Linked DNA regions of Homo sapiens: all the other regions are linked to region 3. Evidence: fine-mapped expression QTL. A gene starts in region 3. Each other region holds a variant in brackets. All regions are shown on one strand. Distances are from middle to middle. Region 1 overlaps SLCO1A2 (solute carrier organic anion transporter family member 1A2). Region 2 has its middle 31 kb from the start of PYROXD1. Region 3 holds the start of SLCO1A2 (solute carrier organic anion transporter family member 1A2).

Region 1 (10,906 bases), 40 kb before region 3:
TGTGTGTGTGTATGGCATCACTAGAAATATATTTGGTCTTTGTCCCTAGCTTCTGACACGTGTCCTTGGAGTTCTTAGAATTCCCTTGGAACATCCTGAGTGATAGGAATGTATTTTGTCATTCTTAAGGAGATTGTTTTGATCACACCTGAGTCTATAGTAATGAGACGACAGGGTGGCCTCCCAGACTGATGTTGGGACTGGTCACCAGAAAGACCAAGTTATTAGAAGATTGGAATTCTCAGCCCCACACTCAGACCTCCAGGAGAATGGAGTGGGATGTGTGTGCTGAAGATCAAGCTCCCTAAAAGCTCTTGAACTAGGAGATTTGATGAGCTTCTGAGTTGGTAAACATATCCACATGCCAGGAGAGTGGCACACCCCAACTCCACCCTGGTTTCCATTTGTGTCTTTTATAATAACCTTCATAATAAACCAGTAAATGTAAGAAAAGTGTTTCTTCCCTGAGTTCTGTGAACCATTCTAGAAAATGGAGGCATCAACCTTAATGCATCGTTTGTCAGTCAGAAGCCCAGGGTAAAAAAAAAAAAAAGCAGCCCAGGGTGTCTGGACTTGTGATTTTGTGATTGACATCTAAAGTGGGGGCAGTCTTGTAGGACTGAACCGTTTAACTTTTGCCATCTGATGCAAAGTCTATGCAGATAGCACTAGAATTGCATGGAACAGTAGAACACCCAGTTGGTGTTGCAGAATTGAACAGTGTAGGAAAATAATACACACATCTGGCTATCAGAAGTGTTCTGTTTGAATAGAGAAACCGTTTGTTTTTCTCAGTGTGTGTGTGTGTATGTATGCGTGTGTGTATGTATCTGTGTGGCTGTATGTACATATGTGTGTGTGCATATAGAGACATATATATGTATATATGTGCATATATAATTTATATATTTATATATAGTACTTAAGAAGCAATCTAATGGCACATCACCTTTATGAAAAATTTTTAAGAACTTTAAGGATACAAAGGAATATTTAAGCAAATGACAGGATATTACATGTTCAAAAATATTTGATGTCAGATTTTCTCCAAGTAATCTATGGAATCTACACAAACTCAGTCAAAATTCTTATGAAGATATAAAGATCCACAGACAGCAAAATAAGTTTGAGAAAGAAAGAATAAAGGAAAAGTGAAGATGGCAGGTGGGTGAGGCAAAGTTACCATATGAGATATTAACATTTGCAAGGCCAAAGTAATTAAATCAAGGTGACGCTGGTATGGGAACAGGCAAATAAATCTGTGGAGCAGAATAAGGATGAAAAATAGACTCACTAATTATAAAAACTTGAGATGGTGGCACCACAAATCAAAGGAAAAAGGACGTATTATATACACTATGATTTTGGAAAACAACTTTATTATTCGGAGAAAAATAACACTGGATATCTATGTCCCTTAAACCACATATAAAAATAGATTTGAGATGGCTTAAAAAACTATGCAAAAGGTAAAGCGGGAAAGCCAGGGGGGAATAAAATTTAAGGGAATATTTTTATAAGTTAGAAATGTGGAAGCAATTTTAAAAATGTGACTTCTCTTCCAAATACACAAACACTAAGGTAAGAAACTTGTTAGATTTTAGTACAACAAAATTTAGGATTTCATTTCATAAATGGCACTGTAAAAGTTAAAAGAAAGAAGACAGACTAAGTGAAGATAATTGTATCATATAAACAGTATTACATTAATATCTGTAATTTACATAGTAATCATCAAATTCATCAAGAAAAACATAGGATGCAGGAAATATAATGAGTAAAGTGGGTAAAATAAATTGAATAAGCATCATGAATAACTTTTAGCTACAAAGTTATTTGAAGAGATGCTTAAGCTCAGTGTATCAGGACATCACATATTGACACATCAATGAGCTATCATTAGTATTTTACACCCATTGGATTAGTCAACATCACAAAGTTAGATAATTCTAACTCTCATGCAGTGATGATATAAAAATTACTCTAAATAGGACTGGTGAATTTATCTATGCATCTACCTTATGAATCGGAACAAGACTTAACACCACACCACCATTGTTGTGAATATAAAAACAGATGCACACAAAAAATTCTAATATTTTACAAAGGAAATACATATTTAAGACATCTATCTGTCATACTTAAGTGAGCAGCTATGGTGACTGGAAGTAGGGAATTGAATAGAAATAAATAAATAAATGAAGTAAAATAAGAGAGAATCCTTGCACTGGCCTATGATGATAATGTGTTATGACTTGAGCATTGTGATTAACTGAACTCTACTTTAGAGCTCCAAAAGAAGAAGAAAAAGAGAGAAAAAATGCAAATTATGTTCAGGATTGTTTACTAGGCACAAAGACTGGTGTAGTTGAAAGAAGATTTATTTAATATACCTAAATTTGAAAACTGGCTCTGCAATTTCCTAGTTTTAGAAAGTCTTTCAGCATTGATGTCTCACAGTAGCCTTGTAAGAGAGCCAAGTATTTATTATTATGCCCATTATTATTAAAGAAAAATGGAGCTCAGAAAGATCAAGTGACCTTAGCGAGATGGGGGCTTCTGACAGCTTTGCACTGCTGTCCTATAGGTTGAACCCTAGGAAATGGCTGCTAGGCACCCACTCTTTACCTATCAAAATGGCCATTTTATACGGCCTACCCTAAGATATAAATGTGTCTCTTTTGTCACAAAATGAGAGGTCCACTCATTTAACTCTAAGAAATAAGGAAGAAAAGTAGCGAGGAATAGGAGTGAAATGCCAGCAGATGAACATGTGCATTGCTAACTTTAAAATTTTGTGAAATCCAACAATGCTTAATACAAAACCCTTAATAAATGGTACGTTAGAGCACTGAGTTCTTAGATACTGAGTCCTGAGTGACTTTCTTAGAACAAGCTACCTTAATAAATGACCCCAAAAAAATATAAATAAAGAAAATAATTTTGTACCTCAAGAGAACCATATATCCAGGTATGGCAGCCAAAGAATAAATGAAACTGCTCATCGCTGACAAGATTAGGAAGTACTGGAGCATCAAGGAACAGTCAGGTCCTTTGTCGCACAGCCCAAGAACTGCAGATGAATTTCCTGATGTTTGAATACAGCTGCAATTTTGGAACACCTGCCAAAAAATAACATATTATACTAAGAAGTAAAAATCTTGAACACAAATTTTAAACATTTTCTACACAGCCAGTTGGATCAAGATGGAGACTGCTTGTTCCCTTTACTCCATCTCCATTATGATGTCTCTCAAGATTACACCATATAACAAAACTGGAAGGGTGATTTCAGAAAAACGGTATATTTTTCTAAATATGAATAGTAAATTTGTAATAACTAATAAGTTACCCTAAAGACACACTTTTTTATTATTTTATTTATTTATTTATTTTTTTGAAACAGAGACTCACCCTGTCGCCCAGGCTGGAGTGCAGTGGTGCGATCTCGGCTCACTACAACCTCTGCCTCCCAGGTTCAAGTGATTCTCCTGCCCTAGCCTCTGGGGTAGCTGGGACTACAGGCGCCTGCCACCATTCCCAGCTACATTTTGTATTTTTAGCAGAGATGGATTTCACCATGTTGGCCAACTGGTCTCGAACTCCTGACCTCAGATGATCCACCGGTCTCTGCCTTCCAAAGTGCTGGGATTCCTAGGTGTGAGACACCGCGCCCAGCTAATACACTTTTTAAAACAGTGTTTTGATACAACACTACATTGGACAAACAAAATCTGTTTCAGAGTGCTCAACTGAAATATTTAGATGCTTACAAATAAAGCTTTGCTTCAAAGGAATAGTTTATTTCAGCAGGGCGCAGTGGCTTACGCCTGTAATCCCAGCACTTTGGGGGGCCAAGGCAGGCGGATCACAAGGTCAGGAGTTCGAGACCAGCCTGACCAACATGGTGAAATCCCGTCTCTACTAAAAATACAAAAATTACCCGGGCATGGTGGCATGTGCCTGTCATCCTAGCTACTCAGGAGGCTGAGGCAGGAGAATCGTTTATACCTGGGAGGTGGAGGTTGCAGTGAGCCGAGATCATGCCACTGCACTCCAGCTTAGGCGACAGAGTGAGACTCCATCTCAAAAAAAAGAAAAGAAAAGAAATAGTTTCTTTCAAAAAAAGAATTGTCAACCTTTTTTGAATTGTTACATGTTTCCAGGTCTTAATAAGAATCAAAATTTATAGTTTACTTTGATCACCAACCAACGTTATATTAATATTACAATTGATGTTATATTATATTGTGATATCTTAGAGGCAAGAGAACATTCCTAATTCTAAATTCTCAAAGAACTGTCAGAATGTGAAAAACACAGAAAGCACATCCATACATATACACAGAAAAATATATATATATGTGTGTATATATATATGTATATATATATAGCAAAGCAATTAGCTGGACAATTGAAATCAAAACCACCAACTTTATTTCAATGATAAAATTTTTTTAGTCCAGAGTATTTACAACCCAAATTATTTGAGTAATAATATAAACTTCTTGGAAATTTCAGATCACTGGTCAGATGCTATGGAGGTTTCACATAAGATCTGGGAAATAAAAGGTAATCAAGTGACCATCATAGAGTTATTTTTCCACATACAAAAAAAGTAATATGGTTTTGAGGAAACACTAATTTTACTTTTATTAAATATAGGCCCAGTTCATAGTTGGGAAGTACCAATGCAACTCAAAAAAGTTCTGTCAAATAGGATGTCTTACCATGTTTATTCCCGTTCCAATGGATGTCTCACAACCAGCAAGACAAGCTGACAGATATGACAAGCCATTGTTTCCACACACAGGATCCCATATTTTAGATGGACAGTTGCAATCCACATTGCAATCAGCAAAGATGTCATTTTCCACATATAAATCTTGTGGAATTCTGAAGTGATTTAAAATAATGCCATAGATATTAAAAGAGGATTCAATCCTTTTTTTCTTCTTTTCATCTCAATCCCCAGTTAGATTTCCTCTCCTCCCATGAATAGAAAGAGAAATTTTCCAGTCATCAATGTGTGACCTGTTTACTATAGCTTTGGTATAAAAGAGACCTGCTTTGATGACCACATAGCCACTCCTTCAATGATTTATCTCAGAAGAATATATAGGCAATAAACAAGCATTAATTGAGCACCTACCATGTGGAGTCATGTTTTCACATACTATTAGATCTCGAAAGATGAAGATGAACTAATCTCTGTGATTCATCCATTAGGTAGCAAATAGCAAGACAGGACTAGCATGAAGATAAAAATCTGAAAGTTCCATTTGTAATATAGATAATACATTTAGCTCCAGAAACATAGGTATTTGAATTAAAGAAGTGCATTCTACTAATATAAAAAGTGACCAGTGCTTGTAATATGATTGAAAGAGCACTTGCATAGCAGTTTAGAGACTGCATTCAGACTAGATCACAGTGCGACTTTCTACACATTCTGTCTGGGAATCAGCATCATTGGAGATGGAGGCAATCTTTAAAATTTATTCCAATTTTAAAATCCATTTCTATATTGATGTAGTTGAAGAGATTTGAAATGAACTGCTTTTATCATTAAATTTCTCTGAATCTCAATTTAATCTGTAAAGTGGAGATAATAATGCTTATCTTAGATGAAGCTCATGAGTCTCAAATCAAATAGCATATGTAAAATTATATTACTATTTTACATTTGAAATTATTTCAATCTAATAAACCTTGATAATTTTGAAAAAACATTTTAGGATGTTCTTTATTTCATTTTAACTGATAGCTTGATTGTCAAAATACGCCCTACAGGTGAATTCTTTTAATGTACATCACTATGGAAAACATTTCAGTAAAACCCAGATAACCTTTAAAATACAAAATATGAAATGATTCAATATTTTAGACATAGCAATATAAATGAAATATATGAATTATGTATTAATTAATTTATCATGTATTATGATTTAGTTATGCCAAACTTAAGCCCATTGGGGAAACATATAAAGGCCATTTTGACTGTATAATCAACTCTTAGTTTTACTCAGTTATGGGAGTATAAGATATATGGATAACATATTTTAATACAACCTGAAACTGTAGGTAGTTTCTTTCATAGGATAATGTCTACTCGGATAT[CACAAAG/C]ACAATCATGCACACACACCCACATGCACATACAATCATAAATTCACTCACCCTGTGATATGTTCCCAACCTCATTAATAAGCCTAGAGCTTGGATAGATTGGCTTGATTGACAGATGGAGGAAAGATACAGGAAAAGCATGGATTACTATCATTAACTCCAATAAGAAAATGATCTGATCGTGCATTGCCATTGTAAAAAATATCATATTAACCATTTGTTGAAAGATTCTCACATTCATTAGAAAACAACATACCCTTCATAAGAGGTATTTATTCCAACAACTGAAGAATTTTCACAAGTCATGAGAAAAGATAAAAAATAGAGAAGATACTCAAGTAAGGATAACCAACATCCTATGTGGGCAGCTTGTTTGACAGTAATCTTGAACTTCTTCATAATTAAACCACCAATTATATATCCAATACATATTGGAGGTAAGTTATAAATACCTATAAATGCAAATAAAATATTATTTACAAAATGACTTACCAAAGGAACAAATATGTTATCACTTTTATGTAATATGCCTTATATAAGTAACTATTTAGGTCCAACTCATAGTGAAGAAGAATGATTTAATTTTATCCCCACTTAGTTACACATTACCCACAGGGAGATTTTGAAATGCCCCCATAATGGGGAAGTATATTTTGGGAGACTCTTGTTATTATATTATCATTCATTTAACTCATTGCAGTAGCTTGTGAATTTCTTATAGGCAGAGATCATGATAAAAATCTCTTTTCTTAGGATCCAGGTAGAAGTGGCAAGTCAAAATTGGCCAGTAATTTATTCATTTATTACCCTCTATTCTGTGTAGTGAGAATATATATATACAATTTTTCAGTTACCTATCCTCACTTTGGTTGTGAAGAATTAGACTCCTCTCAAAGTGCTTTTTCTTTTCTTTTTTTAGAGACAGAATCTTGCTTTATTGCCCAGGCTGGAGTGCAGTGATATGATCATAGCTGACTGGAGCCTCAGCTTCCTGGGCTTAAGAGATGCTCCCACCTCAGCCCTCTAAGTAGCTGGGACTACAGGTGCACAACACCACACCTGGCTAATTTAAAAACAAAAATTGCAGAGACAAAGTCTTGCTATGTTGTCCAGGCTGGTCTTGAACTCCTGGCCTCAAGTGATCCTCACTCCTCAGCATCCCAAAGTGCTGGAATTAAAGGCATGAGCCACCACACCCAGTTCAAGGTACTTTAGAGAGTCACTTTGCTGAGCCTGTTGCTGTCAAGTGTATTTACATTTCATGTCTTGCTGCTACTGGCTCTTCCTCTCTGAACCCTTCCCAATAAGTGAAAAAAAAGAATAGAAAAAGGAGAAGATAGCCCTAGGTTCCATCTATACAATGTGAGCATCTGGCTCCCCGAATCATATTATTGAGAGAGCTTGTTAAAAATCCATTCCAGAGCCCCACGCCCTAGAGTCTGATTCAGTGTGTCTGAGGGGGAACCCCAGGTATTTGAAGCTTTCACAAGCACTTTAGGTAGTGTGGATACAAGTAGCCTGGGATATTGACTTTTAAAAACAGTGGAAAGATCCCAGGAAAAACCCAAGTTAGGCTAAAACCACTGAGGTTAGTGTGGTTGCAGGAAAAGCCGAATGTGTGTGGCTGCAGAGACACCTAAAACCACTAGGGGGACCAAAAAATTAAATTAGGAGGAACATAGAATCCTTGAACTGGAACCAAAAAGAGTAAAATTTGGTAGTAAAATGCACAATCCTATCTGAAAATATGTAATTTTTGCACTCCCAAATATTTGCATTCATATTATGAATTCACATTCTGACTTCAGAGAGAAGAAAATCAAGGTATTTCTGACCTCTTCCCTTCCCTACCCTTTCTTTCTTTCCTTCTTTCCTTCCTTCTTTCCTTCCTTCTTTCTTTCTTTCTTTCTCTTTCTTTCTTTCTTTCTTGAGATTAGAAGGAAGAAATCCACCAGAGTCAAAAAATATCCTAAAACACTTCAACTTAGGAGTTTGCTACACCCGCCATCACACTGTTCGTGGGGGGGAAAGTGTGCTAGTAAGGCAGAGAAAAACAAACATACCCATTAGAAAGATTGCATCTGAAGATGATATTCCATATTGCTGTTCTAGGTATTTAGGCATGAAGGAGATCATGTTAACGAATGCATTGAACTGTATCACACTTACAAGTATGAAAAGCATATAAATTGGATTGCAGGAAAGACTTTTCATGAAAGGTAGAAAATCTGAAATGAAAGAATGACAACTGTGTCAAACGAACTTGGCTTTGCATTTTGTGACTGGCTTTTCCTGAAACATCCACCTCCTCAACAAATTATGTTTTTTACTATTTTGTAATATGTATTGTTTGCTAATTCTTTTTTCCCCTTGAAAGCTGAAGTCATAGCAATGTTTTGGTGGCTTCTGGAAGTCAGTGATGTAGCTGACTGGGTAGGGATCAGAACACAACAGTTTTGCCCTCAATAAGTCACTGTTGAGTCTTAAAGATCAGTAAGCAAAACTACAAAGTGACCAAAATATTGTCTACGTCCACAGCATTTTATTACTAACCTTTTGTTCTTCTATTAATATATTCTTTTTTCTACAGCTCATTAGAATGAAAGATGCTTGTTCTGTTCTGTAAAGTCTGGAGGAAAATCGAGTTGATAAAGAAGATTTCACACAAATATTTATTTTATCACTCCCTGAACATTTGAAATAAAGATGTGTGGGAATTAATGAGATATGAATGTTCTCAAGTATCCGGAATTTTTTTTTGCTTCTTCAGAACAACAGTTTCAGTGGTTCTGCCATTGGTTCTCAGCAAGATCTACCTGGAGATATTTTTTAAAATACCAACATCCAGGTCCCATCCTCAGAGATGCTGATTCATTTGGTACATTCTAAGGACTATGTAAATGATTTAATCAAAAATGATTCCTGTTAGAAAAAGCACAGAGCCAAATGTGTGGCCTGCCTCTAGTAATGTTTGGCCTGCTTCTAGTAATGTGTGGCCTGCCTCTAGTAATGTGTGGCCTGCTTCTAGTAAATGTTCTTGGTCACACTGCTACCATTCAGGCTCAAGTTCTCACTTTTAATTTCCTTTCACTTTTCCTGTCCACATGTTCTCTGTCTTGACTTTCTTATGCACAATCTTGGTTTGCTTAATAAACTGCTCACAATTCATTCTGGAACAAAATTTCAATAAATAAACAATTTAGAAGAGGAGGACACACAGATTAATGCAAGTAAATGAGTTATAATTGTAAAATTTATATTTATGAATAGGGTACCTGACAGGAGAGAGAGTTATCTGAAGATTTTTAAGTCACCCATGTTTGTTGACATCCCTGTCCTAATAGATGAGTTTCAGTAGCACAAGTTTCTTTTCTATGTCTTGCAACAAGCTAAGCTCTTTCCTAATTTTGAAAATGGAACTGATCTTGCAGACTGCAAGAGGTCTATCAGTCCATAACAATCCTTTAAGAAGAGTTTTTAATATCATCAGAATGATTCTGAGAATTTGCAAGATTCTGAGTTGGCTCCTAATGACCAAAGATGTATTAAATTATGCTCAATTATGATTTAAGAGAATTTACAATTGTTAAGAAAAATTCTATGCAAATTGACATTGTAACTTATGGGTGATGATAGAAACAACAATGACAACATAAAAGTACTAACACTAGTATCAGTATTAATAATAATGTGTGCTAGAATGTCTTTTACCTTCACACAACAATTCTATAGTAAGTACTATTATTATCCCCATTTGACAGAAAACTGAGACCCTCACCATCCGTCAAATAAACATTTTTAAGTTCCAATAGCCAGGCTGCACATCCACACTAATTAAATCTGACCTTTTGGGAATACTACAGAACTTTCAGGCATCAATCATTTTTAAAATTTCCTAGGTGATTCCAATGTGCAGCCAAGTTTGAGCATCAGTGCTCTTGAGTACTAAATACTTAGGCTATCTTAGTTTAGTTTCCCACAGAAAAACCTTCTGTAAATTATACTTTGAGCTTTTATTGAGGTTCTGTACCAAAAAAAATGTTACATGCAATTTACCCTTTCATTTGCTGGAAAACCACTATGTGGCTCAATATTACCTGTATCATGTATCTTATGATCATTTTTAAATTTTTTTACAATTTCTTCCTTGGAGAACTGCTTCTGTTTAAAAATTATTATTCTTCCCTCTACCAAGTATAGAGAGGTGGGTCACCGATCATGTTTTTTTTTTTCTTTCTGATTTAACTTCCAGGAAGCTCTTCGTTAAACTAACACACTGGTTACAAAACTATACTACCTATTAAGATTAGAGTATACTTTTTCCTACTTTTGTTCTTAGTTTAAATTTGCTTGTTCATTTTGTTTCAATTCAACCTATGTTCTCTGTAAAATCGGTTTTTTGAGCAAATGGGACCATATATATACGTGTGTATATATATATATATATATACACACACACGTATATATATACACACACACATATACACACACATATATGTGTATATATATACGTGTATATATATATACGTGTGTGTATATATATATACGTGTATATATATATATACGTGTGTGTATATATATACATGACCCTCTCTCTCCTCTCTCTCATATATATATGTGTGTGTGTACATATATATGTGTATATATGTGTGTAGATATATGTGTGTGTACATATATATGTGTATATATGTGTGTATATATATATGTGTGTGTACATATATATGTGTGTGTATATATATATGAAAGAGAGAGAGAGAGGAGAGTGCCAAGACTGACATAA
Region 2 (10,906 bases), 72 kb after region 3:
ATGAGATCACATGGACACAGGAAGGGGAATATCACACTCTGGGGACTGTTGTGGGGTGGGGGGAGGGGGGAGGGATAGCATCGGGAGATATACCTAATGCTAGATGACAAGTTAGTGGGTGCAGCTCACCAGCATGGCACATGTATACATATGTAACTAACCTGCACAATGTGCACATGTACCCTAAAACTTAAAGTATAATAATAAAAAAAAAGACAAAAAAAAAATCAGGAACAAATAAAGGTTCCCAGCTAATATCATTATTATTCATCACTGTTGTGGTATTTCTTGCATTAGCTAATACAAGAAAATGAGAAAATGAAAATAATACATAAATACAGTAAATTAAAAACAAAATATATTTAATTATAGACAATTACTAATACTTGTAAATCACAAAAAAGTTCCTATATTGTAATTAATAAAAGAATTTGATACAGCAACATGATACAAAATATATAAAACCAAAGGCTTTTCTTTATGCTGGCAGTATAATACAAAAATTAAAATAAAAATAAAATATCATTCACAATAACAATCGAACAATAAAGTACCCCAGAAAACTTTAACAAAAATGTGCAACTGTATGAAGAAGAATACAAAATTTTATATTGAAGGTCATCTTGCATGAATTAAGAAAAATTATCATGCTTACTGGACCAAAAAACCTCCATAATATTATTAAAACCTTTATCTTTCCTAAATAAGTATAAATATGTAATGCAATTTTAATCATAATTTTATTGAGATACTAATTTTTATTTGGATTTTCCTTTATAATTTTAAATGATTTTTAATTTTAATCATTTTATATTTTGTTTATTTCTACTTTTTTGTTTGACTTAAAATTTTATATGGAAGAATAAATATGTAAGATTTACCTAAAAATATTGAAAAAGATGATCGGTACCTGACATAGGATACTAAAGCCTTCTGTGATATTAATTGGATTACAATAACATGTTATGACCACAAAAAATGTACTAGTTACTGTACAAAACTGAGTTTATAACTGTATCCAATATAAATATAAATGAAAATGTATTATATGATAAACACTTCAGCAGAAATATACATATACATAATAAATATATAATAGCTCAGCAGAGAAAGTATAGCTTCTTTAGTAAATGATTTTATAATTATAATTAGATCTTCATTCAGCAAGAAAATAGTAATATTCCTGCATAATCCATGTTTAAAGATGAAAAAGAGCAATGGATTAGGGATTTTAATGTTAAAATAAAATGTAAAAATTATGTGAAAAATAAGAGTAATGTTAGGTTAAAGAAAAACTTTTTTAAAAAAGACAAAAAAAAAAAACCAAGAAACTATAATGGAAAAAAATTGTGGAGTCTACTTCTTTAATAGTACAGATTTATACAAAGGCAAAAAGTACCATAAATAAGTTTTTAAAAAATAGAGAACATGTTTGAAACGTATATGAGAGGTGAGCTTTATAACCCTAATGTAAAATAGAGAACTTCTGCAAATTGAAAAGAAAAAGCAAACATGGGTAAATTGTATGAACTGGGGTTTATAAGAGAGGAAAATGCAAATAGACAAAAATTATTATAATCTTTTTATAAAAGATGCTAAATCTCACTGGTATTTAAGGAAATGCGATTGAAAAGTAGCACAATACCCTTATTTTTGCATACAGTTAATTAAAAATTTTTTGAAAGATTTATCACATACAATGGAATGGGGTGGAGAAGTGATGGGATTGCATATTGCAGTACACAATGTTTCTGGCATTCCACTTTTGGAAATCCATTCTGCAGAAATAGATATTCTTATCTAAGGATTTAGGGACTAACCATGATTTAGATATACATGCTGACCTAGAGGGATGTCCATAGTTCATAGTTAAATGATTACAGCAACAAGTCCACATATGTAGGTAATGATGATCCTGTATTTGTGACTAAGGGTTGTGGGGGAGCATATGTGTATAATTACATAAATCATGTATGTTTTACATGAGCATAGAAAGAAATGTAAAAAGATACGCCCAAAATTGACTTTTTTATATACTCTTCTGTTACTTAGCTTTGAAAAAATAATGTTCTCATTTTTGAATTTTAAAAGAAAACTCCAGTAGAATGTGTATATGTGAGTGTTAAGTGTGTAGATATGTATGTTATAGACAACTAATGTTCTGAGATTTCCAGAGAGAGAGAGACATGTGAAGAACACGGGGCTTGATCAGAATTTGAACGATGGTTGTGGAAGAACTGGATAAACAAAAAGGGACTTTCCAGGCCAATGACAAGGCAGGAGGAAAACAACATTATCCGGAATCATTTAAATGTACTTCTAACGCTCCAAGCCACTTGTAACTACATATTTGAAAACTCAAAATGTAAATCTGTATCTGTGCATGCATAAACAAACAATATTATTACTACCGCACAAAACAAATCCTGCATTAAATACAATTGTCATTGCTGTCAGGAATGTATAAACAAGATAATTAGAAAACCCAAAGAATCTTATACTTATAACTAAGCATTAAATCTCCTTATATTTTTCCAAGTACAAATGACTAAATTGCAACCCACAACAACCCAAATAAATGAAGGACTTTTACCTTAGCATTCACCAACATCACCATTCATTTTTGCTTCCATACTGTAAGACCAACAGATTTTTTAAAAAATTACATATTGAGTAGCCAGTATGAATAAGGCACCTCAAACGTGTAAGCTGCAGCTTCTTGTTCATCAGAGAAGCAGAGTTGTAAATAAAAGAATCTTTGTTTATGTAAGTTTTAAACCTTTGGTTAAGTTTCTTTGGCTCTGATGGTTGCATAAAGCAGGTTATAATCTTGGGAACAGGTTCTAAGATTACTGTACTCACTTGGAACCAGAGGCTCCTCCTTGCTTTTTTTTTTTTTTTTTTTTTTTGGTGGTTGTTTTTTCAAACAGTTAACTCTTACGTGGCTTTGGCTCCAATACCCTGTTGAAAAACCTCAGTTAATGGCACTAAACTTTGCTGAGCCTCAATTTTCTCAGATTTTTTCTTTCGTGATTAAGGCACCTTTAACAAGTGTCTTGTAAATCAAATATAATATGTTAATGTACTCATTGAGTAAACTGACACACATATATTTGAGCATGAGTTCAACTTTCAGTGTAGCTGGATATCTAAGAAAAAATGACACCAAAACGGGAATAAGCTTGAAAACAGAGTTGATGCGGACAAGGATATTCATTTCTATGGGATGCCACTGACATTTTTGAACAGTAGACTGAGATGCGAAAACCAGTGTCTACAGATTATTGTATCAGTAACTTTCTAGCTGGATGGGATGAGTAAAAGATTAGGGGCTATGTAAAGTAATTAGGTGGTCATATCCAGGTGTAATTTGTAATGGAGTGGATAAGATAGTTGGATTTATTTATTTTATTTTATTTTATTTTCTATTCCAGGATACATGTGCAGGGCATGCAGGTTTGTTACATAGGTAAAAATGTGCCATGATGATTTGCTGCACCTATCAACCCGTCACCTAGGTATTAAGCCCCACGTGCATTAGCTATTTATCCTGATGCTCTCCCTCCCTGCTCCCTGACAGGCTCAAGTTTGTGTTGGTCCCCTCCCTGTGTCCATGTATTCTCATTGTTCAGCTCCCACTATTAGTGAGAAACATGTGGTGTTTAGTTTTCTGTTCCTGCATTAGTTTGCTGAGGATAATGGCTTCCAGCTCCATCCATGTCCCTGCAAAGGACATGATCTCATTCCTTTTCATGGCTGTGTAGTATTACATGGTGTATATATACCACATTTTCTTTATCCAGTCTATCACTGATGGGCATTTGGGTTGATTCCATGTCTTTGCTATTGTGAATAGTGCTGCAATGAACACACACATGCATATATCTTTATAACAGAATGATTTATGTTTGTTTGGATATATACCCACTAAAGGGATTGCTGGCTCAAATAGTATTTCTGGTTCTAGATCTTTGAGGAATTATCACCGTGTCTTCTACAATAATTGAACCAATTTACATTCCCACCAACAGTGTAAAAGCATTCCTATTTGTCCACAACCTCTCCAGCATCTGTTGTTTCTTGACTTTTTAATAATCACCATTATGACTGGCATGAGATGATATCTCAATGTGGTTTTGATTTGCATTTCTCTAATGATCAGCGATGTTGAACTTTTTAAAATGTTTGTTGGCCGCATAAACATCTTCTTTCGAGAAGTGTCTGTTCATGTCCTTGGGTCACTTTTTAATGGCTTTTTTTTTTTTGTAAATTTAAGTTCCTTGTAGAGTCTGGATATTAGACCTTTGTAAGATGCATAGATTGCAAAAATTTTCTCCCATTCTGTAGGTTGTCTGTTCACTCGGATGATAGTTTCTTTTGCTGTGCAGAAGCTCTTTAGTTTAATTAGATCTCATTTGTCAATTTTTGCTTTTGTTGCAATTTCTTATGACATTTTAATCATGAAATCTTTACCCTTGCCTATCTCCTGAATAATATTGCCTAGATTTTCCCCTAGGGTTTTTATAGTTTTGGGTTTTACATTTGAGTCTTAAACTATCATTAACATTTTTCACAGAATTTGAAAAAAAACTACTTCAAAATTCATATGGAACCAAAAAGACAAGTATAGACACATATAGCCAAGATAATCCTAAGCAAAAAGAACAAAGCTTCAGGCATCATGATACCCAAACTTCAAACTATGCTACAAGGCTACAGTAACCAAAACAGCATGGTACTGGTACAAAAACAGACACATCGACCAAGGAACAGAAAAGAGATCTCAGAAACAAGACCGCACATCTACAACCATCTGACCTTTGACAAACCTGAAATGATTTCCTATTTAATAAATGGTGCTGGGAGAACTGGCTAGCCATATGCAGAAAATTGAAACTGGACCCCTTCCTTACACCTTATACAAAAATTAACTCCAGATGGACTAAAGACTTAAGTGGATTGATATTTTAAAGGGAGAAACAAGATGCAATGCTATGGAATGTTTAAAAGCACTAGCTGAACCCAGCACTAGCATGAGTAGCTGTTA[C/T]CTTGGACAAGTTAATTAACCTCATTTTTAAACATATACCACAGGATAATCATAGCACCTACCTCAAAGAGTTGCTGATGTTGTTATTTCATTCAAGAAATATTTATTGAGCACCTACTCCATGCCAAATATTTCTAGGTCCTAGAGATATTGTTATAAGCAAAAGAGTCTAAATTACTACTCATGGATTTTGTCTGGTTGAAGGAAGAAAGAAAATAAGTCAACAATTAAGATTAAGAGGGAATCCTTTTCTTTTGCTAGGTTGAATGAGTAGATATATTTAAAATGTGTGTGTGTCTGTGTGTCTGTGTGTCTGTGTGTGTGTGTATGCGTGCATGCACGCGCAACACTTGGTAACCAAGTCAGAACATTTTTTTCTAAAATCCCTTTTAGAATTTCTCAGATGTTACTTGTACTGCTTCTCAGTTGCTGATGATGAGACTTCTTTCACTATTTCCAACTATTTAAGTAGTTTGAAGGACAGACAGAAAAACATCTGCCAGTAGTGAAGCTCTATGGACAAAACCTGGGAATGGCTTCAAAAGTAAGGGGAGGAGCCCTGATCACTCCTGCCACCTCATCTGGAGTGGAAATGGAAATTTCAATCTTTCATTTCTCTTGAGAAGCTTCAAGCGGCAGGATTGTTTTCTATTCTCTGGTAAAAATTAGAGTTAACAGTTGTTGAATATTTATGATGTGCCACAGGTCATTCTAGGAACACAGGGCTGTTAACTAATGTAATCCTCTCAACAAATGTTTAAGATAAGTACTATTGTTATCCCACTTTTACAGATAGGACACAGGTACAGATAGGCTTTATCATCCCCAAGATTTCACAGCTGGTAAGCAGAAGAATGGGGATTCAGTCAGCTTCAGACCACTACACTATACTGCCTCTCAGTAGTTGATATTAGGTTAGCAAATAGATGTGAAAGAGACTTAAAATAATTTTGGAGACAGATGCATGTTCTTTCTCTTTCTTTTGTTGAAATATGTATAAACTGTTAGAATGTTCAAAGCAGTGAAGAACCAAACCACAGAAAACATATGGTAGTTTATATATCCCATCTTTTCTCAAAAGAAAACATAGACACATTGCGTATGTTCAAAAGCACCCTGGCCCCATGCCTGGCTCCCACCCATACCTACCTCCTTGTTTCACTTTTTCATCTTCTGTCAAGATCATCCAAGGCTTTTACGAAACAATTTAACAAAATAATTTCAGGAAGGCAAAAGTGCTCTGAAGAAAATCAAACAGAATGATGGGCTTGGGAGTGGACTGGAAAGATCCTTGATGAAATAATGCTTGAAATGAAATTCAAAGCATAAGAAGGAAAAAATACGTGAATATCTAGAGACAGAGCCCTTCAAGCGTGGGGATCAGCAAATGCAAAAGCCTTAGGATGGAAGGAAACAAGCTTGGCATATTTGATAAGAAGGTTGGTGTAGTTGGAGAAAGAGAGTTATCCTCACCGAGGGGAAAGAGGAACAAGATGCAGTTGGAGCGTTGAGCAGAGGCCAGGTCATGTACTGCACTATGCCCAGCAAGGAGTTAGGATTATATTCTATTGGAAATGGGAATCCATAGGAGGGTGTGAAGCAGAAAAATTACTTGATCAAATTTGTGTTTTCAAAAGGCCTATTTGGGCCAGGTGCAGTGGCATATGCCTATAATCCAAGCACTTTGGGAGGCCAAGGCAGACGAATCACTTGAGCTCAGGAGTTCAAGACTAGCCTGAGCAACATGGCGAAATCCTGTGTCTACAAAAAACACAAAAATTAGCCAGGCATGGTAGTGAGTGCCTGTAGTCCCAGCTACTCCCTACTCAGGAGGCTGAGCTGGAGGATCACTTGAGCCTGGGAAGTCAAGACTGCAGTGAGCCAAGATTGTGCTACTGTACCCCAACCTGGGTGACAGAGACCCTGTCTAATGAAAATAAAAATAAATGAAAAAAAAAAAAAAAAGCCTTTGGCTGCTCTGTGGAGACAGGACTGGCCAGGGGAAGGAAGAGTAGAGCCAAATCGCTACTGCAAAAGCCCAGGCAAGATATGGTCAATGGGTATAAGTTTGGTGCAACTGACAGTAAAAATCTGCACACATTCAGAACATATTTGGGAGAGAGCCTGAAAGGTTTACTGACTGAGCTTTTCTGGAAGTCTTTCTATAGGGGGAATGTTTAGAAAATTCTGTGGCAACTCCTCAGATAAGGAGTTGTTAAGGCACCAAACTATTTTCCCTAGTACCTTAGTTACTCTGGTAAATTTTTACACAAAATAATGTTCCTGTGACTTAGATGGGCCTGTCCAAAATACACAAAAATGCCTGTTTTATATGACAAACGAATTTATTAACCATGCATAAAGTGTTTCTAAAACACTGATAATGTCCCTTAGTCATAAAAACACATTCTTTCCTTGCTTCTTTGTGTCTATCAACCTCCCTCTTTTTTTTAATCAGAAACAATACTCTTCTTTGAATAAATATCTACCCAAGGTCATCATTCCTCCCTCAGCAACAGTGAAACATAGAGTCCTTTAAGTTGTCACTGTTGACCCTCACTCTACTCCCAATATTCAATGCGATTTCTTAACTTTCAGTACTACTTTACCACACATAATGTTGTACTTAAAGACCTGTGCTCATACTCCTCTTCAATTTGCCAGTGAGTCTACCAGAAATCCGCAACTGCCCAACGAAAAGTGTCCCAGTCCCCTTCTCTGTTGATGAAACTCAGTATCATGTTGAAGATACTAGTCCTGTAAGCTGGCAAGTAAAAGTTCTAGGCAAGCATATACATCAGGGAAGCAGCTATGAAGATGTTTGGCTGCCTCAGCGCATGCGTGTGTGTGTGTGTGTGTGTGTGTGTGTGTGTGTGTACGTGCTCCCGCACACACGCACTTATAGATAAGACAGAGAATAGTCACGGCAAAAAGTGAGCTTGTTGTCCATCCTAACAAATAGGATGGAGAAACTTATGTCCAAAGACCACCAAACATCCCCAACGCTCTTCTAAAACAACTTCCAAATAACTGGTAGAATAAAACTTTTTAAAGGCTGGTAGAATAAAACTTTCAAATTGTGCCAAACTTATAAAAAGGCGGCAGAGGTAGACAGAGTTTGTGGATCACCCTCAGAAAGGTATCCTGGGTTCTAAAAGCAACCAAGTTTTAGTTCCCAAAGAAAACTGAGAATCTTCTTTTCAAATTCTGTTACTGTTTGCTTCTCATCTCAAATTCGTAACTCTGGAGATAGTGTCACTTGATGATAATTCTGTTGGAGGGACTCCTGTAGGGTGGATCCTGAGGTTTTGCTTCTTTTCATATTGGAAGATGAAGCAACTGTTGTGGTATAACTCATTAAACTCTAAGACATGGGATAAAGACCATCTCATCATATTGGCAACATGTCGTATTCATATTCCGCCTCTATAAGATACAAAGACCAACTATTGGATAGATAGTATAAAACTAGGGTCAGCCTGTGGGTAGAATCTGGCCTGCCACCTGATTTTGTAATTAGAGTTTTTACTGGAACACAGCCACGTTCAATCATTCAAATTTTATCTATGGCTCCTTTCACAAATACAAGGTAGATTTGGATATTTGAAACAGTGATATTACATCTAACAAAGCCTAAAATATTTGTAATATAATAATATTATATTTAGACCTTTATGGAAAAATTTGCTGATCTCTGGTGCAAAACAATGCTTCTGGTAGCAGTAGTGGCCAGTTTGTGGTAGTGACTGCAGAAGCTCTAGTCAAAATTGGGACCTATGGCTAAATGGATAAATCCCAATGCAAAGTATTAAGATGAATTCACATGTCTATGGTGACACATCTACCATTCTTGTCTTTGAAAACAACCTCTGAGATCACAGTCGTATATTTGAGCTGTATGGTACACAGTCTTCCTTCAGAGTCTGCACATCCTGCTATATCACTCTAAACATCAAACACATTATGTGTGTTCTCTTCACCCCATTACACAAGTTCTTTCATCTCAATGAGCATTAATTTGTCAGGTGTGGTGTCCCATACATTTTTTCCTGTGCTCTATTTTTTTGTGCTCTATTTTTAAAATGTGGAAAGTAAGCTCTCCAGGAAATCCTTCATTTGGAGAATATTTTATTTAATGGCTCTCAGGAGCATAACATTGAATTAATCATAATCCTTGGATCACCCCCTTGTTCTTTTTCAGGCATGGTATACTTTTATTTATGAAATCTAAAACTTTGTCAATAAACCAAATCTAAGAGTCTGGCTTCCCCCACTAACCCACCACCTATCTCCTCCAGTCTGAGGAAATCTCTAGATCAATCTTGAGTCCATCACTAGTCTTCCGCTTATCATTCCCTTACTTTCAATTTTATATAGTTTTGCAATTGCATTTATGCATATTCCTAAAGAGAGAGAGAGAGAGACAGAATGCATGTGTGCCTGTGTGTATGTGTGTTTAATTGCTTTAAACTTTATATATAGAGAGATCGAGGCTATATATAACTTGAGGGAACATTTTTCTCACTCATTGCTATCATTCATCCACATTGTAACTATCCATTCATCCACATTATTATATAATTCTCATTAATTTATTGATATAGCTGTAGAATAGTATACTGGGCAAATGCACCACAATGTAGTCATCTAATTTTCCCTTTAATGAGCTTTTGGATTGTTCTTTGGGTTTTGCTATTTAGAACAGCTCCTACTATGTAAGTGCAAAAGTTTCTTCTGGGAATAGACTTGCCTGTGAAATGGTGCATCAAATGGTGTGTTAATGCTCAACTCTAAGAGGCAAATCCAAACTGTATTCTAGTAGTGATACCAATTTATGCTCTCAGCAGTAATGTGTCGGTGTTATTTAAATATACTGATATTTTCAAGGTTTTTATTTTTGTCAAATGGTTAGGTATAAAATTACATCTCATTATTTCAATGTGTATTTCTCTGATCATTAAAGAGAGTAAACATTTTCTTCATATGTTTATTGGCTATTTGCATTTCTTCTCTCTGATGTGCCTGTTCATTTATCTTGTCTGTTATTCTATTGGGTTATTTGTCCTCTTTTTATTAACGAGTAAAGATTCTTTGTGTATTATTAATTGTAACCTGTTAGTTTTGTGCATTGTAAATACTTGCTCCCACTGTGTTATTTGTAATTTCATTCTTTATGTTGGCTTTTGATAAACAAAAATTCTTGCTTTTTCAGTAGCCATCTTGGGCCTGAGGAAGAAAAAAAAATCCTTGCTTTTAGTACAGTCAAAATTTTAAATTTTTTCTCTTGTAGCCAATGTTTATTTGTTACTGGTTTAAGAAATCTTACCCTGCCTAAAGTTGTTAAAAAACAGAACTCTAAATTTTTAAAAGATGTTTGGAAATTTTTTTTGATATGTAAATCTTTAATCTACCTGGAGTTTATTTTTTGTATATGATATGAAATAGAAATTCAATATTATCTTTTTCCATATAGATATGCTTCTTCCAGCTCCAATCTCTTTTCCTCCTTGATCTCTCATGCGACTGTGATCATATACCAAAATCCCAAACATATTTCGACCTGTTTCTGGGCTCATTCTATTACACTGTGTCAATTTATCTATCCTCACACTGTGTTAATTGTTATGGCTTTATCATAAGCATTAGAATCCAGTAGATATAATCCCAATCCACCCCTCACAGACTTCCCTTTAGAAGTGTTCTGTTTGTGACCTTTTACTTGACTGTGTAAAGTGGGAATAATCTTATCAAATTTTATGACCGTTACTTACATTGAAGCTACAGATCAATTTGGGAAGAAATGTCATCAGTATAATTTTTTTTTTTTTGAGACAAGGTTTCACTCCATTGCCCAGGCTA
Region 3 (10,906 bases):
TAGGGCAGGAGGGATTTCCCCCACCCAGTTTCCCCTGAACTAGTCCCAAGACCAAAAAAGAATTACTTCAGAGGCCAGTGCCACTCCAGGACAGTGAGCAAAGGGGAGGGGAGAGGTTACAGGGCACTGAACTGGATACTAGTCATATTCAATGGGAGAATATCCCAGTTATAAAGACAGTTTCACATGGCTTGCATATGAAGCATATCAACTACATTATCTGGGGTGCTCCACTTGGCATTTTATAGGGATGGTTGGGAAGTCCCATTTCCAGAGTAAACAGACCTTACAGTAGCAATTATCCAGTCAGTTAGGCAGGTTGTTCTCTTATGAATAACCTCGTATACATTTGGATCACATATACTCATCAGCAATTTAATAGTGATTTGTGAATCCTGCATCAACCCAAACAAGCTCTTTCATTTTGTAGCCTTCAAAATAAAGGATTCTTTCCTTAAAGTAGTTAAGGTTTCTCAAGAAGCTGATTATATTGATCTACAAAATGGAACAATTACTTTGCATTATACCCTCTGGTTTTAATAGTTACTTGGTTTTGCCCTTCCCACATATTGACTATCTTCTTGGTAACCACAGCTCTCAGAGGTAACTTTTGTTGCTCTGGTTTAATTTTTCTTTCTGTGGGTAGCTTGGAGTCTAGTGGCTTGAGCTGGGACAGACCCACCTCTGGGCCTGATCCAGCCTTAAGGATCAACCCAGCATTCTTGTACATTCATTTAGCAATTACAGATAACAATAACCAAGGGATTGAATATTTTTGCTTTTTTTTTTTTTATTAGTTTGCATCTCCTTATGCATTTAGAGAGCTAACTCCTCGGGAGCATAATCCATCTCTAAATTCTAATGAATTTTATCTTTTGTAATTGAATGTAGCTCAGCTGCATCTCCCTACCATAGGTAACCACATGGCCACCCTGGAGTCAAGGTTTCTCCTCACTCATCTTTTAATTTCTCTCTTTATCCATTTAGTTTTATCTATATAATATTTTTATCTTTACTTAAAATAACTCTTAGAAAAAAAAATTCTTTAGCAAAAGCTACATCATTGTATTTTTATAAATTTTACCAAAAACACTATTTACTCTCCTACTATTTTAACTCTTAGTAACCCAGATTCCCATTGAAAAAAATAGGAGTTATTTAATTTAACATAACATGACTTTAAGATGTTAAACTACTGGAGGTAATTTTGAGATTAAATTTACCAGATTAGTCTTACCCAAAACTACTAAGGTCATATGAATTAAAAGGCATCTTTGGTAGCTTCCTTCAGTCTGAAAAGCACTTATTTTTCTTTTAGCCAAGTGATTAGAGGTCTTTAATATAATTTGGTAGTGAAATATTACTTCTACATGACACATATAAACATATAGCTATAACAGACATACAGACAAAAGCAGATCCAAAATATTTTTCATTTGCCTATTTTCAAAAATTCTGTTTCTTAGTTTCAACTATTAACTTAAAAAGGCCAGACACCATGGCTCATGCCTGTAATCCTAGCACTTTGGGAGACTAAGGCAGACAGATCATTTTAGTCTAGGTGTTCGAGACCAGCCTGGGCAACATGTGACACTCCATCTCTATAAATAATACAAAATAAATAAATAAATAAATAAAAAAGCTTGGCTTTGTGGTGCACACTTGTAGTTCCAGCTACTCAGAAGGCTGAGGGGAGGATTTCTTGAGCCTGGGAGGTTGAGGGTGCAGTGAACTGAGATTGTGCCACTGCACTCCAGCCTGGGTGACAGAGTGAGGCCCTGCCTCAAAAAAAATAAAATAAAAGTAAAAAGTTACAGGAGCCAAACAAAGTTGAAGGAGAGAGTTACCATTCCAGGCCTTCTCAAAAGAGAAAAAAACTGAAGCAGTAGGGCACAGGTTCTGAGATATCAATCTAAATAATTTTAAAAAGAAAAAGATTATAGAATTCAAAAATTTTAAAGTCCTTGCATTAAGAGTAACTCAACATTTTTAATAAATCTTGTTCTAACCAGTTCTTTAGTGTTGCATGAGTGTACTTTTAATATCAAAGTTCAATTTTTAGAAAAACTATTATAATTTCCTTTAATTGTAGCCAACTGAATCACATAACATTTTAACAAATTCCTGTTTTACTAACCTTATTACAACTTACACAGACCATTTACAACATGCTTGGACTTTCTGGTTTGACATAAATATTTCTCTTTCTTGAACGAGTCATTTTATCTTAGGACAAAAATTCATCATGCAAGATTCTTTCTCATATAAAATTACTTTTCTTTTAAGCTTTCTTACCAAAAATACCTCTTTATAACTTTCTTTACATCTCTTATTTCCTGGTCCTTTTTACCTCATTTTATATATAATCCTTAAATAACCTCTGAATTAGACAAAAATAATTTACCTTTGAATAAGAACACTTTAGACCTTAAGAAGAATCTGCCCATGACTCTTGAAACTCCACAGAGAAAGAAAGGGTGAGTGATGCCTTTGTTCTGAGTGTTTTAAGGGGTTCAAGTCATTTGATGGCTTCTCTAGATTTTTTTTGGTACCAGACAGTGAAGGGGGAAGGAGAAATAGTGTGGAAGAAAAGAAAATGAAAGAACAATTGTGTTTTTAAGACAGGAAGCTGCAACAGAAACCAAGCGCATAATTTGTTTGTTTTCTTTTTTTCAGTTATGAGGAATTTTAGCAGCTTCAGAGGTCTGGCTGCTCATAATTTGGAATTCTCATTTGAATTTGGCCAAGTTGGGTACAGTTGGTCAAATCTGATGGGAGAAACACCAGAACAACAAAAAACCCCAACAATATGATTACTGAGCACTCTAATGCTAAGGAGAAATTAAGACTAGCCGGCTGTCAATTCTAATTTTTAGTCATTAAGGAGAATCGCTGAGATAAAAAAAAAAACCCAACTCAGCTACTTATCTAGGAATGAGACCCTGGCTCAAGACTGCTGTTTACCATCTTACAGGCAGGAAAAAAAAAGCTCAAACTTGCCTTCCCTGTTGGAAATTAGCTGAAACTCCAGAAAGGAGTTGCCCACGCTCCATTGTCATGGAAGCAGGAAAACTTGCCTTCTTTGTTGGACACAAGTAAAACTAAAAAATAGGAGTTGTAGAGAAAAATAAATTTTAGATCTTAACCAAATTTAGGGGATTGGGGATTCTCTGGAGTGGGTGGGGGCTCCCAGGCCTCAGCAAATTGTCCTATCAGTTTGAGCCATAAGGATAGCTCAGGCTGGTACCAAGTACCCACAGGAGATTCATCAAAGGTCAGGGGCACCTCCACTCAGAATCCTTTCATGGCTGCTAATTTGTGAACCCAAAAGTATCTGAGACAGGTCTCAATCAATTTAGAAAGTTTATTTTGCCAAAGTTAAGGCATGCCTACAGTATAGCCTCAGAGAAGTCCTAAAAACATGTGTTCAAGGTGGAGTACAGCTTGCTCTTATATATTTTAGGAAGACATAATGCATCAATCAATACATGTAAGATTTACATTGGTTCAATTGGGAAGGTCAAGATAACTCAAAGCAGGAACTTGCAGGTCACAGGTAGATTTTAAAATGTTCTGATTGGCAATTGGTTGGAAGAGTTATTATCAATAATAAAAAATTATTTCCTGTTTACAATCAGGGCTTGTGGAGACCAAGGTTTTATCATGCAGATAAAGCCTCTAGATACGCAGGCTTCATAGAGAATGGATATAAATGTTTCTTATCAGACTTAAGGTCTGTGTTGATGTTAATGATGGTTGGTTATTCCTGAATTCCAAAAGAGAGGAGGGTATAAAGAGGCATGTCCAACACCTCCTTCCCATAACAGCCTAAACTTGTTTTTTAGACTAACTTTGGAAGGCTCTTGACCAAGAGGAGGTCCATTCAGTGCTGGGAGCAGGGGGTGGGAGGGTTGAATTTTATTTGTGGCTTAGAGGCTGTATATACTGATTCATAAACTACCATCTTTCTCACTGTGTCTTCACATGGCAGAAAATGCAGTGAATCTCTCTTAGTCCTCTATTATAAAGCCACTGAACCCATTCATAAAGGCTTTACCTTTGTGACCTAATCACCTCTCGAAGGCCCCACTTCCTACTGCCATCACCTTAGAAATTAGGATTTCAACATGGGAATTTGGATGGGACACATTCACACCACACAATACATCTAAGCCAAAATTTATCAATTATTTTTGTGAGACCTAAATAGAAATTTATGTGAAAAGGACCTAGAAATTTGAATAGCATTCTTAATATGAATCAAAACTGATTGACTACAGCATAGTATGGCCATATCTCTAGCTATTTTTTATATTGAATACCATTTGTGGATATTCTCTCTTCCCACTATAAACCTTCTCAGAGTGTATTCTTAAGAGCAAACTATTTTCACCTAGTTTTATAAATCAGATTTTATATTTAAAAGCAAGTCCTACTAAATCAAGTACAAATCAAATTTGGAAAAATAATTTATTCTACTTTACATGTTAAGAAAAGAAATTAGATGGATCATGACCTCATTGCTTTTCCCCTAAAACACATGGGTTGCCTAACTAGTTTGGTTTTATTCGCAGAGTGAAAGAAATCAGTGGCTATTCTGACTCATGTCTAGTGCTAAATAATCTCTGTATTTATAAAGCTGGTCCTACTAGCTTCTAGCAATAATGCCCTTTCAACTTATTTCAACAACAAAGTTTAAAGCAAATTTGTTAAAAATAGTTCTTTCATGCTTCCTAATGAATTTTGCTTAATGAGTATATTTCTAAGTTCAGAGAAACAGAGAAACCTAACTTGCTATTAAGCAATTGCCTCTCACTTTTACCTGATAAACTTGTGCTTACAGCATTTTGTCTTAACATCCACATTAATATCTAACCTTGCTAAACTCCAAAGCAATCAAAAATTAAAGACCTCTTGTTTATAAATACCACTTGACTTTTCTCCACAAATGCTTTTAATATTAATAGCTAATATTTATTGAAAGTTTACAATATTCCAGTCATTGTTTCAAACATAAAAGAATCCTATAAGGTGGGAATGTTGCTATTACCCTTTTCAGATGAGAAAACTGAAGCACAAAAAGTTTTTCTTAATTAACATACCATTTCAGGCAAGTCTATTTTTTTTAGATTTATATCATAATTCTCCAATTTTGTATACATGTTTAAATTTCCCCAACACACATATAAATGGAAAACAAACTTCTGATAGGGAGAAAATGAGTGACAGTGTCTTAGTTTTGAAACCACTTGCAGGCACTAGCTATAGAATCAGGACAAATGTCCAGATCCCTTGGTTTATCATAAATTCAAATTTGTTTGAATATAAATGACTTTGAAGCTAGAAAACAGAATTTTCTCTGAAATAGAAAAAAAAATCAGAACAGCTGACAAAATGGCCATTTTTCTTACAGGAAATTATTGTTATGTTGCCAAAGCTTAAAGAAAACATTTGTTTTGCTGGGTAATTGCATACAAATCAACAAAGCATTTCTGTGCAATGAGCCATTTTCGGAGAGTGACTCCCACATTTCTCTGGGTTAGAAACCCTGCAAGAGTGAGCATGGCCTTTGATCCAGAAAAATAAATCCTGCCACAGTATGTGTGCCTGGAAATTTTTAGGATCCTGTCTTCCATTTAAGTCTCTCAAAGCCATTTAGGACTAACTTGCCTGAATCAATAATCCTGTGTAGACACACCCTCAGTTATAAAACCAACTTCTTTAAAGCAAGAAATTATCAATAGAACAGGCAATATGGCATTAATATTAGATCACTTCATGCAGATAGGAGCAATTTTACCAGGACTGTCGTATTTTAAAAACTAGTGTACATGCACATATATCCACATACAAAAATTCCATACCTTCAACTTGGAAAGACATCTTATTCTATGGGTTTCAATTCTTTTCTCAGTTTCTCCCATGTTGCTCTTCAGGGTGTTCCAAGCTATTTATGTTTTAAATCTTGATATGTCTTACTTCTACCCTTTCAAGCAAACAAAAAAATATGTTAAATTAACTACAAAATTGTAAAGCATCATTCTTTTGAAGTAAGTGCTGAAAATGAACAACATAATTGAAATCCATTGCATTACAAAAATACCTGGAACGCTTTAATACAGATTAGAAAATCATGGTGTTAGAGAAGATTTAGTTGTTGGTTTTCTATTTCAAAAGGTACATCAAATAACTTTAGTGACTCTTTAGTGAGATTAAAGATATTAGAATTGTTTGTTATGATCTTGCAAAATAATGGTCACATGGTTAAAAGAAAGCTTTTCACTTCTCTAGCCAAAACAAATAGTACCAAAAGACTTCCATGAAAATAGCTACTTTTAATAACACACATACTTTGAGTTGTGTTTGTACTAAAAACCTGCTTCACTAACCCTACCAAGGCTCAAAAATCTTTTTTTGGCCAGGCTCTCTTTTCAAGTTATTTGCATTCCAAGGCTTCCCTAGAGTCTCAGGAAGGGAAACACTTTCTGGGGCACTGCTGATACATGGAAACCTGGGGAGACACGGAATTTTAATCATGAAAACAACCTAGTAAAAATAACAAACAATTCTATGATCTGGAAAATAATCCCACGATTGCAAACTAAGATGTAAGACTTAGGAGATTAAACATATAAATGGGTATCTATATGTAGCTATACGTAATAGGTATAGATATATGTGGAAATATATGTACAGATGTATAACATACAGGCACACATTTTTATATGTAAAACAAAAAGTTGAATTAAACTCAAATAAATTCTACTAATCCCATCAAAGATTTTGTTTGTTTTACATCTTGAAACTAAGGCAATAATTTGTATCAAAACCAAAGTGTTTCACTTTGGCAATATTTATTCTAGTTTCTAGAATGATTTCTTAACAGTATCCCCAGCATTAATTAATTAAGTCCTTTAAACAATATCCATTTAACAAGTGATCCTGAATGGCACTAATTTTTTAAAAAACCAACTGCTTTACCTCTACAAATGTGCTGAATCCCAAACACACACACATCAAGGCATAGTCGCTGCACTATTATGTTTGAGTTTTGTTATTTTAACACATTCTCTCACAGATACAACAAATACTTATTGAACATCTACTCTGTGCCAGTCATGGTGCTACGCACCAGCATTCAGCAGTGAGCAAGAAAGCCAAGTACGTGCCTACAGAGAGTATAAACTAGCGAGAGAAGTATGTTTCTGTGGAAGATACTTGGACCCAGATTCCAAGGAACTTAAACTTTCATTGGGAAAGATAAAACTTTTAAATAAAACACATTGGAATAGAACCAGACAGTGTAGAAGGAAATGCAATTTGCTTGGTATGTAAGTGGTGAAAAAATTCACAGGTTATTGTTCTGAACTGCCCTCATTTCTTTCTTCTCGTGCATTTAGAACCCAATCTCTCTCCCCTTTTCTCTTCTCTCTCTCCTAACCATTATCTTAGCCCAATATAGTCACCGTATCAAACACTAAGGGAGAGAACTTATTCTTCTCCCACGTCAAAATTGCCTTCACTCTTCTTTGTGGCTAAAAACATTACTATATTAAATGTCTATTTTTTCATATATAGCCAGAGGGCATAAAAGCTGGAGGTAGTGCCACAGAAAATCACCATATAGGGGAATTCTATATAGTTCCCTCCATGAATTGTGACACTAAGTAACCATCTAGAGCAGGTTTTTTCACTATGTCTGGAAGATTTGCTTCAAAATGTTTTAACATATTGAAAAAAGGGGTTAAAAAACTATTATCTTAACTGAAGTAAGAGGTAATATTTAAGGCTAAGCACTTGAAAAGAATTACATGGGATTAAATTAACCCTAAACTTTCCCTAGTTTTCCAACTTATATGATGAAAATATTTTATATTTTCAGATACATTTCAAACATCTTCATGGAGGAAAATAAACAAATTAACAAAATCTATTCCATTTATTCAATAAAAATCCATAAAATCCAACGGTTAATATCATAGTCATTGTTGTCCATCTTGGCCCCAAATCAGGAAATTCCGTGTGCCGTCTTTTCATCTTCTCGAGGCTGTGCTAGTGCCAGCCATGTGAACAGTCCTCTTTTGTTAGCACAGTGTTGTTTACACAGTGACTTCTGCTCCCAGGACCACACAGTGTCACCAACAAATCCCTGTCAATCATCACTTCTAATGAAAAAGACATGCTGAAGTTTTATTAAGTGGAGAATCATGTTATTTCCCTAACTCTTTCTCAGCATTCAAATGGGAACAGGTAATGCTTCAGTATGCTTTCTCACACAAACGTTGGATTTCTTCCATGCCTGCTGGTCATAGCTCTGTGTTGTGTTGTTTTTCTGTTTGATTGGGATTTTAAAAAACACACAAATAAGAGGAACTCTACTCTCTTACATTTTTAAGTGCACAGTACAGAATTGTTAACTATATACACATTGTTATGTAGTAGATCTCTGGAACTTGTTCATCTTGCATGACTGTAATTCTATATCCATTGAACAGCAACACTGGGGCTTTTGACACCTGTTGGCTTCCAGCCCCTAATGATGTGTCTCAATCACAAGATAATACAAAGTTTTATAAAACAATAATACAAAGTTTTATGAAACAAATATAAAACAAATCTTGTTTGTGCTCTTGCAGTATTAAACAAATTAATATAGTTTGTGATTGTTAGAAATCAACTGGGAAAAAATGCTTGTGTTTAATTTTACATTATTCTCTACTCTCAAATTAATGAAATAAAGGCCTTACTTTACAGCAAAGCTAGTAGTACATACATGAAGAAGACTTAGGAGATCATCCTTTCCCTAGGGAAAAAAAAAATTTACACTAGCAAAAATCTTATGAAAATCACTTATTTCCAGGATCTTGAAATGGCTCCTAGCTCTGTGAGACAAGAACAGCCTCTTGGGTGGTATCCAGCTGAAACAATTTCAACCAATACTAATCCAAGCAAGTATGTGCCAATGAATTACATGTAGAATCAACAATGGCTTTTTGTATTTTGTCTACCAAATTATTTTACTTCTATTGGTTCATTTTCACCAGAAACTAAAGAATAAAATAATAAATTCTGCAATTCAGTCTTATAAATATAAGTATTATTTTACTTTCTAGATTCAGAGGAGGTACTAAGAATGTATTGCTTGGAAAAACTATGGCAGAAACTTAACTGAGCCATAAAATGTTATCCATACATGTGATTTCACCATGCAAAGCAAAGACTGGAACTCACAAAAACACAAGTAAACACTTTCATCAACAATCCATCAGTAAAAATACCTACCCTATCACTTTAGATAATGTACTAACTCTAGATAATAGACCAAGCAACAGAAAAGTAAAGTTGAAACCTGAATTCTGTGTTTAGGGGAATTGGTTGTAAATATCATCAATGTCACACACCATACCAAGTAATTCTAGAGAATGAGTAGATAATCATGTGGCTAACCAGCATTTTCCACACTTGATAACAGGATGAACTCCTTTACCTAAGTCTAGTTCTGACTCCTCTATGTGCTCTAGGCCTCAGTCTTGGTGTCCAACCCTCTACTGCCTAATTGTAGTGAGAATCTTGCTAAGTCTGTTTGGAGAGAATCCCTCACTCTTGATATCTGATCATCTTGATAGTTGATCAAATTCTACATCCCCCGGAACCCCCCAGGCGATATCTGATCATCCTGGCCTTCAGTCAGTAAAAATCCTGTCACATTGGTTTAGCCACAATCCCTCCTTACTCCCGATGTTTCCTCTTAGTAATTTTCCATCCCCTGGCCCCCACCCTGCTGCTTGGCTAAAAATCTCCATCTGTCCAAGCTATATTCGGAATTGAGCCCAGTACTACACTGAGGTCTCTTTTCTCCTATCGCAGTAGTCCCTTAATGAAATCTTTTACCACTTTACTGTCCAGCTCTGATTTTAGTTTGGCAGCAATATCAACTATGTCATTTCTTCAGATTATTATCCCAATTCTTATTTTCCTTTTATCTGCGTAGACTAGGTAAGTACAAACATATGTATTTCCATTACGTGCCAATATATGGCATGTAAACACTGAGCTGCTCCTTTTTCTCATAGAGACAAGACTTTATCTGTTTATAAGGCTCAAAAAAAAACCTGAAAATTCAATAAAATGATTTGAGTTTTTTCCAACACATTTATTTATGTATTTTTCACATAAATTTATGTAGGGAGGCAGCTAGACATAGTCAAAATAGCAGACCTTGTAATCCACTTAGCCTAGCATTAATAGCAGATTAATTGTGAGCTGTTTAAACTCTTTGAGCCTATTCCTCATCTCTGATATTGAAATATTTATGACTACTTTGCAAGATTGTCATGAAGATTGAGTTATAAAATTTACATAAGACTCCTTGCAGGGCTGCTGAAATAAAATAGTCACTCTGTCAATGACAGTGATTACTACTCATTTATTCTACAAATATTTATTAAGAATCCACTACATTCCAAGCACAGTAGTAGGTACTGGGGATACAAAGATGAATAAAATGTGCCTGCTCTCAAGTGACCTTATAAACAATTGGGAGAGATAGATAGTTAAGTGATGATGATAGCTAGTTAGTGCCATAATGCAGACAATTTGAGCTAAGTAATAGAAAGAGGTGATTAATGAAAACTATTCATTTGGGTATTCATTTGAACGATCACTTGATTGCAGCATAGTAGTTCAAATACTTGGGCTTTGAAATTAGGTACAACTGGTTTGAAAGCCTGTTTTTAAACTAGCCGTGTGTTTTTGTACAAGTTACTTAATATTTCTACAAAATGAAGACAGTCTCTATCTTTGTCAAGGTCCTGATAGGAAAATAGAACTCATAATAGATAATTTAATAGAGGGATATTATATGGAAAACTAGTTATAATGATATAAGAAGAGCTAAAAAAAATTG

The links.
Region 1: its variant is fine-mapped to the expression of SLCO1A2 in lung (TOPMed, PIP above 0.99).
Region 2: its variant is fine-mapped to the expression of SLCO1A2 in testis (GTEx, PIP above 0.99).

Annotation. Positions count from the first base shown.
Region 1 is chr12:21,289,215-21,300,120 of GRCh38, forward strand. SLCO1A2 (solute carrier organic anion transporter family member 1A2) reads right to left here. Exons shown (of 15, transcript NM_001386879.1): 9 at 8,190-8,354; 10 at 6,383-6,578; 11 at 4,731-4,896; 12 at 2,950-3,122. Among named protein-coding and RNA genes, the nearest start is that of SLCO1A2, 40 kb to the right of the region's middle. The variant CACAAAG/C (reference allele first, on the strand shown) is at 6,121.
Region 2 is chr12:21,400,826-21,411,731 of GRCh38, forward strand. It overlaps a transcript of SLCO1A2 not described here. Among named protein-coding and RNA genes, the nearest start is that of PYROXD1, 31 kb to the right of the region's middle. The variant C/T (reference allele first, on the strand shown) is at 5,048.
Region 3 is chr12:21,328,724-21,339,629 of GRCh38, forward strand. It overlaps SLCO1A2 (solute carrier organic anion transporter family member 1A2), which reads right to left and starts at 6,194. Exons shown (of 15, transcript NM_001386879.1): 1 at 6,104-6,194; 2 at 5,865-5,986. The coding sequence starts at 5,924. RefSeq lists an enhancer at 10,183-10,689.